Regions from separate parts of the Homo sapiens genome. Here region 1 is linked to region 2. Evidence: fine-mapped expression QTL. Tissue or cell type: whole blood. Region 2 holds a variant in brackets; the other region holds the start of a gene. All regions are shown on one strand. Distances are from middle to middle.

Region 1 (8,105 bases), 28 kb before region 2:
GCAAGTCATAAGAAAGTCTCCCCTGGCCCCCCAGACACTCTCTTTCCATTGTACCTATAGAGCACTATGGCAAGTCCACCCAGAGTCATAAGAAAGCCCCCCTGGCCCCCCAGACACTCTCTTTCCACTGTACATATAAAGCACCGTGGCAAGTCCACCCAGAGGAACCCACGGGCCAGACTTCCTTCAACCCAAGGGCGCTGGTTTCCCATGATATGTACTTAAAGTTTTGGGCACCTCAGGCCTTGTGTTCAACCTTTTGTAGGTTGTATCTCATTTAATTGTCCAAAAACCCCAAAAAAGGTAATTACTATCTCTGCTGGACAGAGGAAGAAACTGAGGCTTTCAGAGTTTAGAAACATGCCTCAGGTCATAACCAGAAGATTCAAATCTAAGTTTATCTGATGAAAAAACTACTTTCCTGTAGCTACCATGTACTTCATATACATACTCAAACTATGTGTAGCTGATGTTCTGGCCCCACACACTAGACACCACCCTGTGTCCTCCTAAGTATTTCTACATCTCTTCGCAGCATCACAATACTCCTGTAAACAGGAGTTGTTTAGCCAAGGAAACAGAGGTTCCAAGAGACAAGAAATGGCCATGCTCCAGTCATGCAGCAGGCCCCAGCTGTACACTGGCAGTCCCCAGCTGTCATCAAACTGACAAATCCTGCAGAGATGCACCCTCGAAGAGATGAGAGGGCACCACCTCAGTGACACCCACCTACAGAAGCGTTAGCTCTGAGAGGCTCTAGAACCATGAAGAGGACAAACATCCTGATGAGGTTCTCATTTAATTGCTCTAGGAAGGGACTCAGACCCTGACAACAGCTCACAGCACCTCGGGGACACGAGAACACTGCTGATGTAAAAGCCATCAGCTTAACAAAAACCACACCCAGTGCACAGTATGGGGTGTGCACTTCCCCAGATCACCCCTGCTACACTCCCCTGGGCTGCATACCTGGGTCCCCGCTGAGCTGGCTTGGTGGTCTGCTTGGGAGCCCCAGGCACTGTGCCAGGGTTATGGGCTGGGCATCCTGGTTCTTTGCAAGGTCGCTGTGGGGCTCTACCGGCAGCTGCTCCTGCTCCTGGTCCAGAGGGCTGTCCCCATCATCAATCACCACAGGGTCTTCACAGTGCTTGAGCTGCAATCCCAGAGACAGCTTTTCAGGGCTAGGGGAAGAGGTCCCATCTCTCCCTGGGCCTGGTGACCATCCACTCCACAGCTGACCATCAAAGGCTCAACTTAGGCCTTGGACTGGGCTGTAAAGGGGCACGACACTATCATGCCCAAATTAGAGCCTTCAGGGAGTAAAACTGGCTTTCTTAGGAAACTCTAGTCTGGACCTAACCAAAGTAAATGGCTCTCGATGGAACTCCTCATTCCCCAGCCAGCACATGCATGGCCCAGCCAAAGTGTCTAAGTACCAGATCTCTACCCGTCCCAGCCCCACCTCTTCTACTCACCCACTGCCAGGGTCTCCCGGGCTCCCGTTCCAGTGCCTCCACCGCGGCCACAGCCTGCTCTCCGCTCTCAGGCTCCTGCGCCCGCACCCAGCTCTGGATCTCCCGGGGCAGGATGGCCAGGAACTGCTCCAGCACCAGCAGCTCCAGAATCTGCTCCTTGGTGTGCCTCTCAGGCCGCAGCCAGCCCCCGCACAGGTCCCAGAGGCGCTGCAGGGCCTCCCGGGGGCCCGCCGCCTCCTGGTAGCGGAAACGGCGGAAGAGACGCCGAGAGGACTCGGGGCTGGGAAGCTCCCCCTGGGGGCTAGGGTTCTCTCCAGGTGGGCTCCTCATTTTCCTGGGCTCCTCACTTTCCTTCGGAGCCAAGACTCGGGGGCACAGGGCTGTGGGCATGATGGGATTTGATGGGGGTCAGCAGCAGAAGACGACCCTATTTCCAAACAGAAATCACTGGCTTCAGTGTTCTGGTCTCCTGTGGTCATTTCTGGGGGACAGTGACAAGGAAACTGTCAATGCCCTCAGAGACCAGCCCTTTGGAGAAGCCCTGGGAAAGGTAGGGAGTGTTGGTGTGGCTGGTCTTTACACACAGGATGAAACAGACAGAAAGATGCCCTCCCCCCATCAGTACCATTACGTGTGGATTCCCGTTAAGTGGGTGACTGGATGAACAAGACAGGAAATCTGGGAGAAAGTGGTGGCATTTCAACGTGACACTGCTGTTTTGAGCATCCCAGGAAACCAACAGCGCCACATGCAGATGTAATCAAGACGCTCTGGTACCTTGGGTGGCTGGGTCCTCCTGGAGAGATCCGAGATGGGCAGGCCAAGCAGGCCACTATCTTGAAGCTCCGGAGCCGAAGTCACTGTTCTTGTTATTAAGACCTTTACAAATGGAGCTGGAATGACAAAGACATGCATCGGATGAGCCTTCAAGCACATCCAGGAATGGAAAATCCACCCTTCTGGTGGCAGAGGGCTGATGGTGCTGCGTGCTGGATGGACAACCCAGCCAGAATCAGCTTTGCCCAGCAGAGTCTGCAATGGGAGGCAAGGGAAAACATCACATGAGACAGCTACATGCAGTCTACCAGGGACAAATAACACTGCATCTAGAAGTATCAGTGGTTTCCTATGAGCCTTCTGCCAATTCTGCCCTGACCTTCAACCTCGCCTCCACCCTATTCTCTATCCTTGCCCTCTTCAAACCACATTGAAGGCAACTGCACACTCGCCAAAGCCCTTCCTCGGCCAGGACAGAAAAGTGGGTCCGTCACTGCACAGCTCAGCCCTCAAAGAACCCCTGGACACTGCAGCTGCCACACCCCCAAGGTGGGACTCAGGGGTCCCTACACCTCCCCGCTGGTGTGCAGACAACTAGCCGACACTTTTGCCACAACTAGGGTGGCAAGAGACCAGCAACCAGTATACCTGGTGTTTATGATTCCCACTTTAGAACGCTGGGCCCGTGAAAGGGCACATGGGGACACTCACAGTCCCCTTCTCTGCCATCAGGCCTCTGTGATCCTTAGGACCGGCAGTGCCTGCCACTCCCCCATCTGCACGAGGTTGTCCAGCGTGGCCGCGTCTTAACCTCCAACAGCTCACAAGGTGGGAAGGGGGACTCGGGCCTCACTCCCATTTCACAGAAAGACAAGTGATGCCAGAAAAGCTACGGAACAACTGAGTGGTTCCAGAAACACCCACTGCTCTGAATCTCTTTGCTTTCCAAAGTAACAACATACACAGAAACCCATATGGGGGCCGTGGCGGCGTCGGGCTGGACGCATTACAGCGCTCCCCACCACCGGATCGCTTCCAGGGCGGCTCCGGCATCTGGAGCCCGGGGTGGGCCCCGCCCGCCCTGCTCGGCGGCCCCCTGCGGCGCCCATCACACACCTGCAGCGCCCAGGACTACTCAGGCCCGCCCCCCCGAGCACCGGCGCCCACCCGGGCTGCCACTCGGATCGTCTCCAACCAGACGGCCGCGTCCGTCTTTGTCACGGCGGCACCTGGCGCGTCGGAGGCTCGGAGGAGATGCCTGATGAATGAACTAACGTGAGTGAGGCGGAGGAGGGCCCCGCAGGGGCGGAGCGAGCTCCCAGCCTTTCGCGGAGGAGGGACCGAGCTGGATCGGCAGAAAGGGAAGGAGAAGGTCGCTGTGGGCCAGGGAAGGGGGAGCCCGCCCTCCGCGCCCTCGGTCTCCCTCACACGCGCGTCTCCCGTCTCGCCGGCTCCGGGCTCCTCACCTCACAGCCTGGAGCTCCCTCCCGGCGTCCGGCCGAAAACCCTCCTGTGGCGGCGGAAGTCCAGGGCAGCCGTCCTCATCCTCCCAGCCCGCCCGGCCGGGCGTACTCGCTGAGGCGGGGTCTCCGCAGGCGCCCGGCTCCTTTCCCGGCCCGTCCAGACCGCGTCTCCCGATCATCCGGAAAGCCACGGCTCGGCTCGGGGGCAAATGGAGGCGCCTGAAAAACAATGGTGTTGCTTTCTCCCCCGCCCGCACCTTCCTGAGCGCTGGGCTCTGGGCTGGGAGGCGGCGCCGCGGAGGCCGGGCGCGGGCCGAGGAGGGCGGGGCGGGGCCGGCCGCGGGAGCCGGGGTGCACTCACCGCCGCGGCGCGTCCCTGTTGGCGGGCGGCGCAGGCCTGGCCGCCGCGGGAGCCCGCCGGACGCCGAGGAAAGGAAAGGCCGGAGCCCTCCGGCTCCCTCCCCTGGGACACTTCCTGCTCCGCTCTAGGACTGGGGAGGTCTCCGCATCTCAGTGGTTCGCTCCCCCGCCCCCCGGCCGAGGTGTGCGCTGGGGGTGACATCCGACACCCCCGGCCCGCCCCGCTCCGCGCGCGCCTGGGCCTGGCCGCCGGGCCGGGGGCTTTGTGGGTCAGCCACGTCGCCGCGCCCGGGCTTCCCCGCGGGCCCGCCGGTCCGGAAGGTCGGCCCGGGGCTCTTTTCTCCGCTGTTCTCCTTCTCTGGCGCCCCCAGGACACGCGGCCAGTGGACGCCCGGAACGGCCGACCGGGAGTCGCGGCTGGGGATGGAAGCTGGAATTGGGGGTGCGGGATGGAGCGGAGAGAGGAGGCCCCGCGCGCCGTCGGCCGCCTCATTTCAGACTCCCCTGCGACCCCCCCCCCGCCGCCAGCCGAAGCCCGGGCCGCCCAGCCCCTCCTGCCGCTGCGGGACGCCGAAGGTAGCGCTCACATCCGCGCCTTCCGGGCCTGGCGCCCACGTGCGGAGTCCCCGGGTTAGGAAAGGCCGCGCATCCGGAGGCCACGCAGAGCCTCGGGGCTTGCGCAGAGGGGCTGCGGTGAGTCCTGACCCTGAGTGGGGGTCACGGGGCTCGTTGCTCGCTGAAGTGAACACGGTTGCAGCTGTGCACAGTGGCGGAGGGAGAGGATGAGGGACTCTGACCCAAGGTTATGTGGCAGTGAGGGGCAAGCAGAAATGGGGGCCTCCGGACCCCACCCCGAGACAGGGCTGCTGGCCGCTGCACTATGCTGAATATAGCCCAAATTCTTACATGGGTCGTCCCCGGGGAATGCTCATTTTTCAGGCTCCAGAGCTTGAGAGAAAGTGCGAACCCGGTCCCTGAGCAGGTCTGATTCCCATGGCCCCTTCGCCATCTGCTCTGCACCGAAATTGGATTCTCCTACGCAGAGGAGAAGGTGGAGAAGATTCTCCGTCTTCCGGAGGGTAGCTACTGCCGGTAGCTCCGATTTCCTTCGGATCCCCTTTCAAGGGCAAGCAGAAGGAAATCAGTTTCTCCAAAGAAAGTGGCCCGGCTGAGTAAGTGGGAACAAGGTGGTTGGACTGAGGCACGGGATCCTTTAGCTCCGTTGCTCTTCTAATCCCGTGGCCCTGGGCACCGCCACTTCCTCCTCTGAACTGCTGGAATAATCACTTCTGACTAGCAGAGTTACTGGGAGCCGCTGTTTGTCAGTGTTCACATTCTGACTTTAGCAGGAGATGGAGCGAGCGAAGGAGTGAAGCCCTTGTTTGTGAACAGTGATTGTTTCCCGGATGACAGCCAGATGCCGGGCAGGGCCACGCAGATCTTAGCTGGAGCCTACAGGTACAAGTGAGAGCCACCCCCTTTGACGTAACTGGACTGGCATTTACAGAACTCATGTACAGCCCACTCTCAGGAACACCAGCCAGGAACCGTGACATGGAGGAGAGGAATTGGGAGGAACCGAGGGGTCATCAAAGGCTGGTAGGGCTTAGGTGCTCTAGCAAACATCCTAGTCTGTGGGGTTCCAGAGCTCTGGTGCTACAGCTCCCAACCCTTTGATTGGCCCAGGAACTGGCTGTTGAGTGGGCATCCGTGTTCATAGCTCTGCCCCTTGCAACCCTAAAGCAGATAAAATGCAGGAGGCAGAAATTGCTGGCAGACAGCATCCAATTAATCCCCACTACCCAATTCAGTTTCTTCCCCTGACCTGACACGTCCCTGCCCAGCTGTGCCTCCCACTGTTCACCTTTTGAGGCACAAAACGGGCTGTTTATGCTGCTGCTGCATTTAGCTCAAAACAGGGCTTCAGAGTCAAGGTTCTGGACTCAGGCACCCGGATTAAATCCTGCCCTATGAATTCCTAGCCAGGTGACCTCAGGCCTACATAACCTTTCTGTACCTCAACTTCCTCATCCAGAAAACAGGGATGATGCTGTCTACCTCATTGGATGGTTGTGCAGGATCAAAGATTCAGTCATTCAGCAAACCTATACCGAGTACCTACTGTACACTCATGAGTGCTAGGCAGCCAGCCTTCCAGGTGCTCAGGTACATCTGTGAACACAACTGGCTATTGGAGGAAGCAAAATCAGTAACATGACCTGCTCTCTTTGATCTGTGCTACAGAAAAAAAGGAAAGTGGAGAGGCATCAGGAAGTCAGGAGTGCTGGGGAGGGGCTGGTAACAGTCATGGTATTAAAGAGGAGGGCAGGCAGGCCTTACTGTGAAGGTGGTATTTGAGATGAAGTAGTTGGTCAGAGTCCCTGTTTGACACATGGAGACCACCTTGACAGCAAAGGCCCTAAGGGGGAGCGGTGCGAAGCAAGGTGGGCTGGTGAGTGAGAGGAGAGGGATGGCATAGAGCTGGGTGGGGGCACAGGAGCCCGTGGGGAAGGTGTTCGCCTCTGAATGAAGTGGGGTTGTATCAGATACCACGGGTGAAGCATCGGGAAGAGGATCCTGCCTGTAAACCCTGCTCAAGGACTGCACCATCATCATGCCCAGTGTGTGCGTGTATTAGGTTTGTATGAATATAATGTTGCCAATTGTATCTGTTTTTATGAAATGTTTGCTATGTGCCAATGATTATTCGATCCATGGGGAGACCATAGAAGAATGATCCAAGGAGTTGGGAGGGGAATCAAATAATAAATCAGCGATTCTGCAATATAACGCCATTGGTGATCGGTGTCATGAAAGAAATACAACATGGTGGGGAAGAGTGTGCTGGGGATGTTCAGGTAGGGCCTCTGTCAGGAGGTGACATTTGAGTGGAGAGCAGGTGGGGGGCTCCTGAGCAGAGGTGTGTGGGAAGAGTATTCCAGCAGAGGAAACAGCGTGTGCTTGCTCAGCTGGGCAGAGGAATAGTGAGAGAATGGTGAGGCTGGAACCAGGTCACCAGATGTTATAGTCATTAGAGGGTTTCAAGTAGGAGTGTGGCCTAACGGAATCTTGATTTTATCAAGATCACTGTGCAGAACAGATGAAGCAGAGTCTCTGTTAGGAATCGTTGTAGAGATCCCGGCAGGAGATGCTCGGTTCCTGGAGTTGACTGGTGGAGGCACAGCTGGTGAACAGTAGGCCCAATCCAGGCTCTGTGTTGAAGGCATGCTGCCTGTGTTAGAGGAGTGAGGAACGGCTGTGACTGGGGCTGAAACTGGGTGACTGAACAGGCCTTCTAGAGATGGCAGATGCAAGGAAGCAGGTTTCCAGGAAGGGGTTGGGTTTGGGGTTGAATTGGTGGATTTGGGACTTGCTGGTTTTCAGATGCCCAGGAGACAAGTGGGGATGACCCTCTGGGATAGAAAGCTGTGGCTGGAGGTGGAAATCTGGAGTCACCGTATGTAGCAGGAGCTGGGGCTTGAGAGGGTTGAGTGTGTTTTGAGAAGCAGCCCCAGGGAGGGCAGACCCTGCGAAATGCCAGCCCTGGACCGTGGGAGCCCAAGGGGTTAGTGGAGGAGAAGGGAGAGAAGGGGAAGTAGGAGGAGGAAAGTGAGGGAGGACGAGGGCAAGAGAAGGGGGTAGGGAGAGCTGCTGCCGCCTTGAGATAAAAGGAAAATTGCAGGTGTGGAGCCCTGGAATCCAAGTGAGCACCTGTGTTTCAAGGAGAGAAAGAGGTCAGGGGGATAAATCCTGCGCCAAGATCAAATCCGATGAGGAAAGAACACTGCCCATTGAATCTGGTAGAGAGGCCCCTGAGCAAAGCAGACAGTGGAGCTCCTGGGCTAGGGCACTTTCTGGAAGAGAAGGGAGATGAGAGTGGACACAGCCCTGTGGAGAAAAACGGTCTCATCTTAAAGATGGGAGAAATTGCAGTGCATCGCCTGGAGGAGGGAGGGCTGGCACCCAGGGCCCACGGGGAGCCGGAGGGCAGGGAAGGCTGCCTCTGGACCTGAGGCATGTCCACAGCATC
Region 2 (8,105 bases):
ACACAAAATGTCTCAAAGGCATTTGAGATTCAACAAGAAAAAGAGAAAACTCCCTTCACATTCCTGCAGAGGCTCAGAGATGAGAAAATACTCCAGATTAGATCCGGAGGACCCAGTAGGGCAAGGCCTGTTGCAGATTAACTTTGTTACTAAAAGCTGGCTTGACATTACAAAAAAAAAAATTACAAAAGATTGATGGATGGAATGAGAAACCGATTGAGGAATTACTGAGTGAAGCTCAGAAGGTCTTTGTGAAAAGAGGGGAAGAGAAGCAGAAACAGAAAGGGAACATCATGATTTCCACTGTGGAAGAGGTAGCCAAAAAAAGATTAGCTCAAGATCCCCCTCAAATGAGACAAGGGAATGATAGATTTCGACACAGAGAAAGAAAGGAAATGCAGGGGAAACCTCCTAAGACTATGAGTGGCTAGATGTTACAAGTGTGGAAAGCCAGGGCATCTTAAGAGAGAATGTCCTCAATGGAAAAAAGAAGAAGAGATGATCCCCCTCATGACCGTTGATGAATACAATGGGGGTCAGGGCTTCCTTCTGAGTAGGTCCCACCAAGAACCCTTGATAAATTGGAAGGCGGGACCTTAGGGAGAAGAAGTGACATTTTTGGTTGACACTGGGGCAGCTCACTCCTCCCTAATCCACAAACCAAAGGGTACAGAACTCTCTAAGGAAAAACTGAAAGTATTAGGCGTAAAAGGGGAGGGATTACAGGTTCTGATATTCAAGACAATGTTAATTAGACTGGGACCAGAACACATTGAGGGGTCACTCTTATATATTCCTGAAGCAGGAACTAACCTAGTGGGTAGAGACCTGATTGTGAGATTCAGTTTAGGATTAGGGATACACAGAAAGGACAAATGAAAGTAAGGATGGGCCTCCTAACAGAGGAGGAGGGAAGAAAAATTAGTCCCGTTTTGTGGTTTGGGAAAGGCAAGCGGGGACACTTAAGAATCACAGCCTTACAGATTGGACTAAAACAACCAGGAGGAGTTTGCAGAAAACAATATCCCATTTCTGTTGAAGGGAGAAAAGATCTCCAACCAGTAATAGAGGGATTAATTAAAAATGGACTGTTAGAACCCTGCATGTCACCATATAATACTTTTTTTTTTGAGATGGAGTTTCACTCTTGTCATCCAGGCTGGAGTGCAATGGCATGATCTCAGCTCACTGCACCCTCCACCTCCCGGGTTCAAGCAATTCTTCTGCCTCAGCCTCCTGAGTAGCTGGGTGCGTGCCACCACACCCAGCAAATTTCTTTTTGTAGTTTTAGTAGAGATGGGCTTTCACCACATTGGCCAGGCTGGTCTGGAACTCCTGACCTCAGGTAATCCACCCGCCTCAGCCTCCCAAAGTACTGGGATTACACGCTTGAGCCTGTGCCTGGCCAATACTCTAATTCTTTGTGTTGCTTATCTGGGAGGGAGAGATTCTGTGTCTATTCCCAGCCATCTTTTTGCAGCTGCAGGCATCTCCCACCGCCCCCCCATCCCAGTCAGCTTTAGCTTCCCTATCTTAATGTGCCTAAAGGGAAAGGAATGTGCTTATTAAGGCCCACTGTTTATACTGGGCCCGACTGTGGGAGTGTGAAGTTTGGTGTTTACCCAGGAGACATCCCCCGCCTCCTTCTATGCTTAAGTTGTTTATCTGTAGTTTATAGCCTGAACTTTCAGGCTACCCTTTGTTAAAAGAGAAGTGATTTCTTTGAACCGCACGAGATTAGAAAGGAAGCTATTTCAAGAGTGTTAAGGGGAATTATGGAAGGTTTACAAATTTGATGGGATTATCCCACCCCTTGGCATCCTGTGGAAAGGTAAAAAGAATAAACCAAACTCTCAAAAAGCATCTCACCAAACTAAACTTAGAAACTAAAGTGCCTTGGACCAAATATCTCCCATGGCTTTAGGATTAGGATTCGGACAGTCCCCAGAAAAGACTTGGGATTGTCCCCTACAAGTTATTATATGGACTCCCATATTTGGGCAGGGCTACAGATCCTCCCACTATGGAAACCAAAAACCAATTCTTAAGAAATGATATACTGGCCATATCTTCCACCCTGTCATCCCTCAGGTTAAAAGGTCTTCTGACGCAAGCTCTGCCTCTTGAGTTCATGGTTCACTACTTCCAGCCTGGCAACTTGGTGCTGACTAAGATTTGGAAAGAAGACAAGCTCCACCCAAGCTGGGAAGGTCCCTGTCAAGTGCCTCTGCCCCTGAGACAGCCCTGCGAACAGCTGAATGGGGGTGGACTCACTACACTGGAATCAAGAGGCCGGTAAAAGAGACCTGGAAAGGGAAGGAGAAAGAACAGTGGGAAGTGCATGGGTCACCTGACGAACACTTAAAGTTAACTCTGAGAAAAATTTAGAAAGAAAGCGTGGGCTGGCTGCATTTCTGAAAGGTAATAAGGCTGGGATGGGTTAGTATACAAAGAGCAGAAGGTCAAAATGGAAACTGGCAGGGGACTCCCCACTGCTCAATCAGGTTGGTGATTAATATGATTAAGACGGTAGCACCCCAAACTATAAGATTTGATGCCTGTCAGGTTTTACCTTGTGGGAATTTAGAAAATCAGAGACAGCTCTCGCAGGCAGATAAATCTCTTTGCCTTGAACCAGATGCAGGTTGCAGTAGGGCATCACCCTTCCCCAGCTGGGAGGATGTATGGTGCGCTACCCAATTTCAGGGTTGGACAGTAAACATGGTGTGGGTAACTCCAAACTGGAAACCCTTGAAGCATAAACTACCTCTGTCCAAGCGCTCCCCACCAAATAACTGCCAGAATTTAGAATGCCATCCTATACTCATCACCCTTGACAATTCAGCCTTTCTAGACCAAGAACCAAAAGTAGCATCTCAGGTATATGGGTTAGGAGAAGACATCACAAGGAAAGACCCCCAGGTCGATTTGATCTCAGGCTAATCAAGAACTCAACCTCCCATTTGCCTGGAACTACTCCAACCCCAGACCCTAATAAACACTTTAGTCTACCAAATATTAACCCTAAAATGGTAACAATAATTGAGGTAAAGGATTTAAGGCAAACCTTAGAAATTGAGACAGGGTATAGGGATGTGAATGCCTGGGTCAAATGGGTCATATTTTCGGTACAAGCCCTCAGCAAAAGTAACTGCTACGCGTGTGCTGCAGGACCACCTCAGGCGCAGGTGGTTCCGTTTCCCCTGGGATGGAATAGTGATTCTAGAGGAATGTGTTGCATGTTGGCTGCATACCAGCACAATGATATAAGTAAGGAGAAGTAAGACTTGTAAGAGTCTTTCATTGCTGTTTCCTGCATTGCGGAGCTCAGATCCCAGAGCAATACCCTCGTTCTCTGCAGAGAACATGAACTACTCCTCTTGCCTCTCTAGACAGGGGGCAGAGTTCCATAAGCCTATGGGAGAACTCTCAACTTGTACCCACATCCTAAACGTCACTGGTGAGTTGAGCAATGGCAATTACTCAGCTCTCCATACACCCCGGGCTGATGTCTGGTAGTATTATGGGAAAAGGAACCTACGTAACCTGTTACTGTCCAATGGGACCAGGACTTGTGCTTTAGTCTCATTGGCCATTCCCTTCACCCTGGCATCCCATAAGATACCCCAAAATACACATGGCCACTGAAACCAGAGAGATTTCACAAATTCTTTTAATCCCAATGTGTATGTTGACTCAATAGGAGACCCTGGTGGGGGTAGGGTTGCCTAATAAATTGAAGGCCTGAAACGCAGTAGGTGCTGGGTTTAAAGTCAGGACACTTCTGCTGGTCAACTATTAAGAAGAATGCGAATTAAATTAACTCCATCTATTATAATCAACAGGAATTCATCAATTATACTTGGGATGCCCTCAAAGGGTGGCTAGCCAGTTAGATGCCACCAGCTAAATGGCCTGGGAAAACAGACTTGCGCTAGACATGATACTAGAGAAAAAGGGAGCGTGTGTGTTATGCTGGGCGGGAAATTTTGTACTTTCATTCCCAGCAATACTGCCCCAAATGGGACCATCACAAAAGCTTTACAAGGACTAACAACTCTAGCCAACGAACTGGAAGAAATGCTCGGAATTAATGACCCATTTACGGGTTGGCTAGAAGGCTGATTTGGAAAATGGAAAGGAATGGTAGCTTCAATCCTTATATCTCTCATAATTGTGGCAGGATTCTTAATAGCAGTGGAATGTTGTATTATCCCTTGTGTGAGGGGACTAGCACAGAAATTAATTAAAACAGCTATTAATAAACAAATGCCCATGACTTACCAGCAAAATAACCTGCCACTATTAGAAAGCAAATTAAACTCACTCTCCTATGAGGAAGAAAGTAAACAACTTCTGGAGCGATTCACGGCCCAAAAGGGTTTAAAAGAAAATGAGAACAAAATAAGTAAATAGAAAAGAGGAGGGAATTGGTGAGAAAACCTTTTAAATGGTCCATTTGCAAGGCATGATAAGTCTAAGCACTGGCAGCCAGCCTGCAAATGTAAGAAACCACATGGCTCATGCACCCAGAAGGTCACAGTAAGTGGACAGAATGTAGAGGTGTGGTCAGCTCATAAAAGGGAAGAAAGTTTTGTTATGGGGAAATCAAAACTTAAGTGGGGAAGAGGACGGGGTATAACTTTGTAAGGGGGATAATGAAAGTTAGGCGATGTCCGGGAAGATTGTAACCCCACAGTACTCAACCAGTGAGGAACTGGGGGAGGGACTTGTGTGCTAGGACATAAATTACCCGTTGTGACCGCCCTGGTTGTGCCTGCTCACCAGACACCCGATCT[C/G]GCAAGACCGTTATGAAAAGTCTCCCTTTCGCTGTTCTTTGTGCCTCTAAGTCCATTCTTTGGGTTTGGATGGGTGAGTGTGTTTCTCACAAATGCACCACTGCACCCCTGCCTAGGTGACAGAGACAGACTGTGTCTCAAAAAAATGAAAATATCAGGGAACTCAATGCAAAAGACTGCGGCGCTTTAGACTTGAGAGTAACCTGCCCATGACCCTTGGGGCTCCGTGAGGAAGACAAAAGACCCCCAAAAGGAGGGTGTATGGCACCTTTTTCTGGTTTCTCAAGGGGTCTCAGGACTGCTAGAAGTTCCCTCTTGATTTCTTCGTGTGTTATTGAAGGTGGCAGAAAGGAAGAAGGGCCAACAGTAAATGGGAAAACAATTCTTAGAGGGCTCAATTTGGGAAGATTTTAAACTTCCCAAAAAGGCCAAGGATGTTTTACATTTTTCTCAGTAAAAATCATGCCGACAACAACAACAACAAAAAAGTGAACAGATGGAAGGAACATAAAATTGCTTTTTAACAAAATTTCAGTTGACTGAAAAGAATTCCCAGGGTAGGAACAGGATCCAAAGAGAAAAAGCATTGCTCTATATATCTGCCAGGGAAAAATCCCCCAAAAACTAAAAGAAAAAAGAAAAAGCAGAAGGGTGTGTTGAAAATACACAAGCAGCAAGCTTTCTGTTTCATGAGCACGTGGCCTAACACTGGAGTGGAAAGAATTTCGGCTGTGGAGCGCTCCCACCCGCTCTGCTCATGGGAGGAGCCCTGCCTCTCTTCAGCTTCCCAGCAGTGGTGGGAGACACACGTCTCTTCTGCCCACGGGAGGAAGCGAGACAAAAGAAAAAAGTTGCTATCACACTCTAAATACAAACCAGTTTTCTATCAAAGGTATACCTGAACAAATGACTCAACGCCAAGTGAAATAAGCACCAAGGAGACCAGAACCAAGAAGCCTTTCACGGCTTTCACCAAGGTCTCCAGAGAGGAGGCAAAAGTTGCAACCCTGCTCAGATCCAGACCACTCCAGGCAGCTCAAATAAAGGAGAATTTTAGTAGCTGCAAATGGGGCTACTGTCTGGCCATATTATCTAGGGTTTCAGCCTCTCAGCTGGCTGACTGCACACAAAGGCCTGACAACCCGTATCTCCCACAGACGGAAGATTGCATGGCAGTTTGTAAGATGGGAAGTCAAAAGCTGTCTGTGGGAATAGACAGGATTGCAAAGTGAAAGGGTACCCCAAAAGGTCAGAGTTATGCAAATACCAAACTAACTTTTTACAAATGTTTCTATTTGTTTTGTCCTGAGTTAAAAGATTTGCATTTCCAAGAGTCTGGTTTCCTGACTGGGAATCAAATCCAGGCTGTGGTGGTGAAAGCATGGAACCCAGGCCCTAGATTAGGGTGGCCCGTCTTCTTTGTAAATCCCAGGGGGATCCAAAACAGGCAGCTTGGGCGCACTATATATATATATATATATATATATATATATATATATATATATATATGTGACATATATATTATATATGTGACATATATATTATATATGTGATATATATATTATATATGTGACATATATATTATATGTGATATATATTATACATATATAACATATACATGTTAGAAATATATATTTTTTATATCATATATATATATTTGTTTGAGACAAAGTCTCGTTCTGTCACCCAGGCTGGCGTGCAGTGTGGTGTGCTCATGGTTTACTGCAGCCTCAACCTCCTAGGCTCAAGCAGTCCTCCTGCCTACCCCTGGCTGAGTAGCTGGGACCACAGGCGTGTGTCACGATGCCTGACTCATTTATTTGTTTATTTATTTTGTAGAGATGGGATCTCCCTATGTTGCCCAGTCTGTTCTCAAACTCCTAGGCTCAAGCAAGCCTTCCTTGACCTCCCGAAGTGTTGGGATTACAGGCATAAATCAGTGAATCCAGCTACACAAAGGATTTATAACTTAGTTGTAAATCTGATTTCTGCCTTAAAAAAAGAAATCCTGCTAAGGGAGTTTCTAAGGCTATATATTCCTTTTGTGTCTTTTCATAGGTACCAATAAGAAAGCTGTTTAAGACAAGAGCTCTTAGTGGCCGGGCGCGGTGGCTCACATCTGTAATCCCAGCACTTTGGGAGGCTGAGGCAGATGGATCACCTGAGGTCAGCAGTTCGAGGCCAGCTAGCCAAGATGGTGAAACCCTGTCTCCACTAAAAATACAAAAAAAAAAAAAAAAAAATTACCTGGGCATAGTGGTGCGCACCTGTAATCTCAGCCACTGGGGAGGCTGAGGCAGGAGAATTGCTTGAACCCGGGAGGCTGAAGTTGCAGTGAGCAGAGATTGCGCCACTGCAGTCCAGCCTGGGCGACAGAGTGAGACCTTGTCTCAAAAAAAAAAAAAAAAGAGACAAGAGCTCTCTAAAAAGTTTTCTTTTAAAATATAACTTTTTAACTTATTTATTATGTTTTTTCAAAATTTCAACTTTTATTTTAGATTCAGGGGATACATGTGTGGATTTGTTACATGGGTATATTGCATGATGCTGAGGTTTGGGGTGCAAAGCATCCTTTCACCCAGGTAGTGAGGATAGTACCCGATAGGTACTTTTTCAACTCTTGTCCCCCTCTCCCTCCACCTCTCCCCTTCTCCTCTCCCCCTCTCTCTCTCTCCCCTTCTCCTCTCCCCCTCTCTCACTCTCCCCTTCTCCTCTCCCCTCTCTCACTCTCCCCTTCTCCTCTCCCCTCTCTCACTCTCCCCTTCTCCTCTCCCCCTCTCTCTCTCTCCCCTTCTCCTCTCCCCCTCTCTCACTCTCCCCTTCTCCTCTCCCCTCTCTCACTCTCCTACTTTCCTACTCTCCCTGCTCTAGCAGGTCCCAGTGACTATTGTTTCCATCTTTATGTCCATGTGTATCCAACGTTTAGCTTCCGCTTATAAGTGAGAATGTGGCCGGGTGCGGTGGCTCACGCCTGTAATCCCAGCACTTTGGGAGGCAAAGGCAGGCGGATCACCTGAGATTGGGAGTTCAAGACCAGCCTGACCAACATGGAGAAACCTTGTCTCTACTAAAAATACAAAACTAGCCAGGCGTAGTGGCGCATGCCTGTAGTCCCAGCTAGTTGGGAGGCTGAGGCAGGAGAATCACTTGAACCTGGGAGGCCGAGGTTGCAGTGAGCCGAGATCACACCATTGTACTCCAGCCTGGGTAACAAGAGTGAAACTCCGTCTCAAAAAAAAGAAAAAAAATGTGAGAACATGCAGTATTTGATTTTCTGTTTCTGCGTTAGTTCACTTAAGATAATGG

What was found. PIP is the estimated chance that this variant, and not a neighbour inherited with it, causes the effect.
Region 1: ZNF496 starts here. The variant in region 2 is fine-mapped to the expression of ZNF496 in whole blood (TOPMed, PIP 0.99).

Annotation. Positions count from the first base shown.
Region 1 is chr1:247,327,714-247,335,818 of GRCh38, forward strand. ZNF496 (zinc finger protein 496) reads right to left here and starts at 4,154. Exons shown (of 10, transcript NM_032752.3): 1 at 4,077-4,154; 2 at 3,719-3,934; 3 at 2,253-2,368; 4 at 1,476-1,902; 5 at 970-1,153. The coding sequence starts at 1,865. ZNF496-DT (ZNF496 divergent transcript) reads left to right here and starts at 4,341. Exons shown (of 3, transcript NR_168399.1): 1 at 4,341-5,533. RefSeq lists enhancers at 1,145-1,647, 4,034-4,328, 8,100-8,105 and silencers at 3,192-3,431, 4,002-4,111, 4,242-4,721, 5,834-6,128.
Region 2 is chr1:247,355,683-247,363,787 of GRCh38, forward strand. The region is part of intron 1 of ZNF496-DT (ZNF496 divergent transcript); the gene reads left to right. Among named protein-coding and RNA genes, the nearest start is that of ZNF496-DT, 28 kb to the left of the region's middle. RefSeq lists enhancers at 2,048-2,347, 6,952-7,496. The variant C/G (reference allele first, on the strand shown) is at 4,800.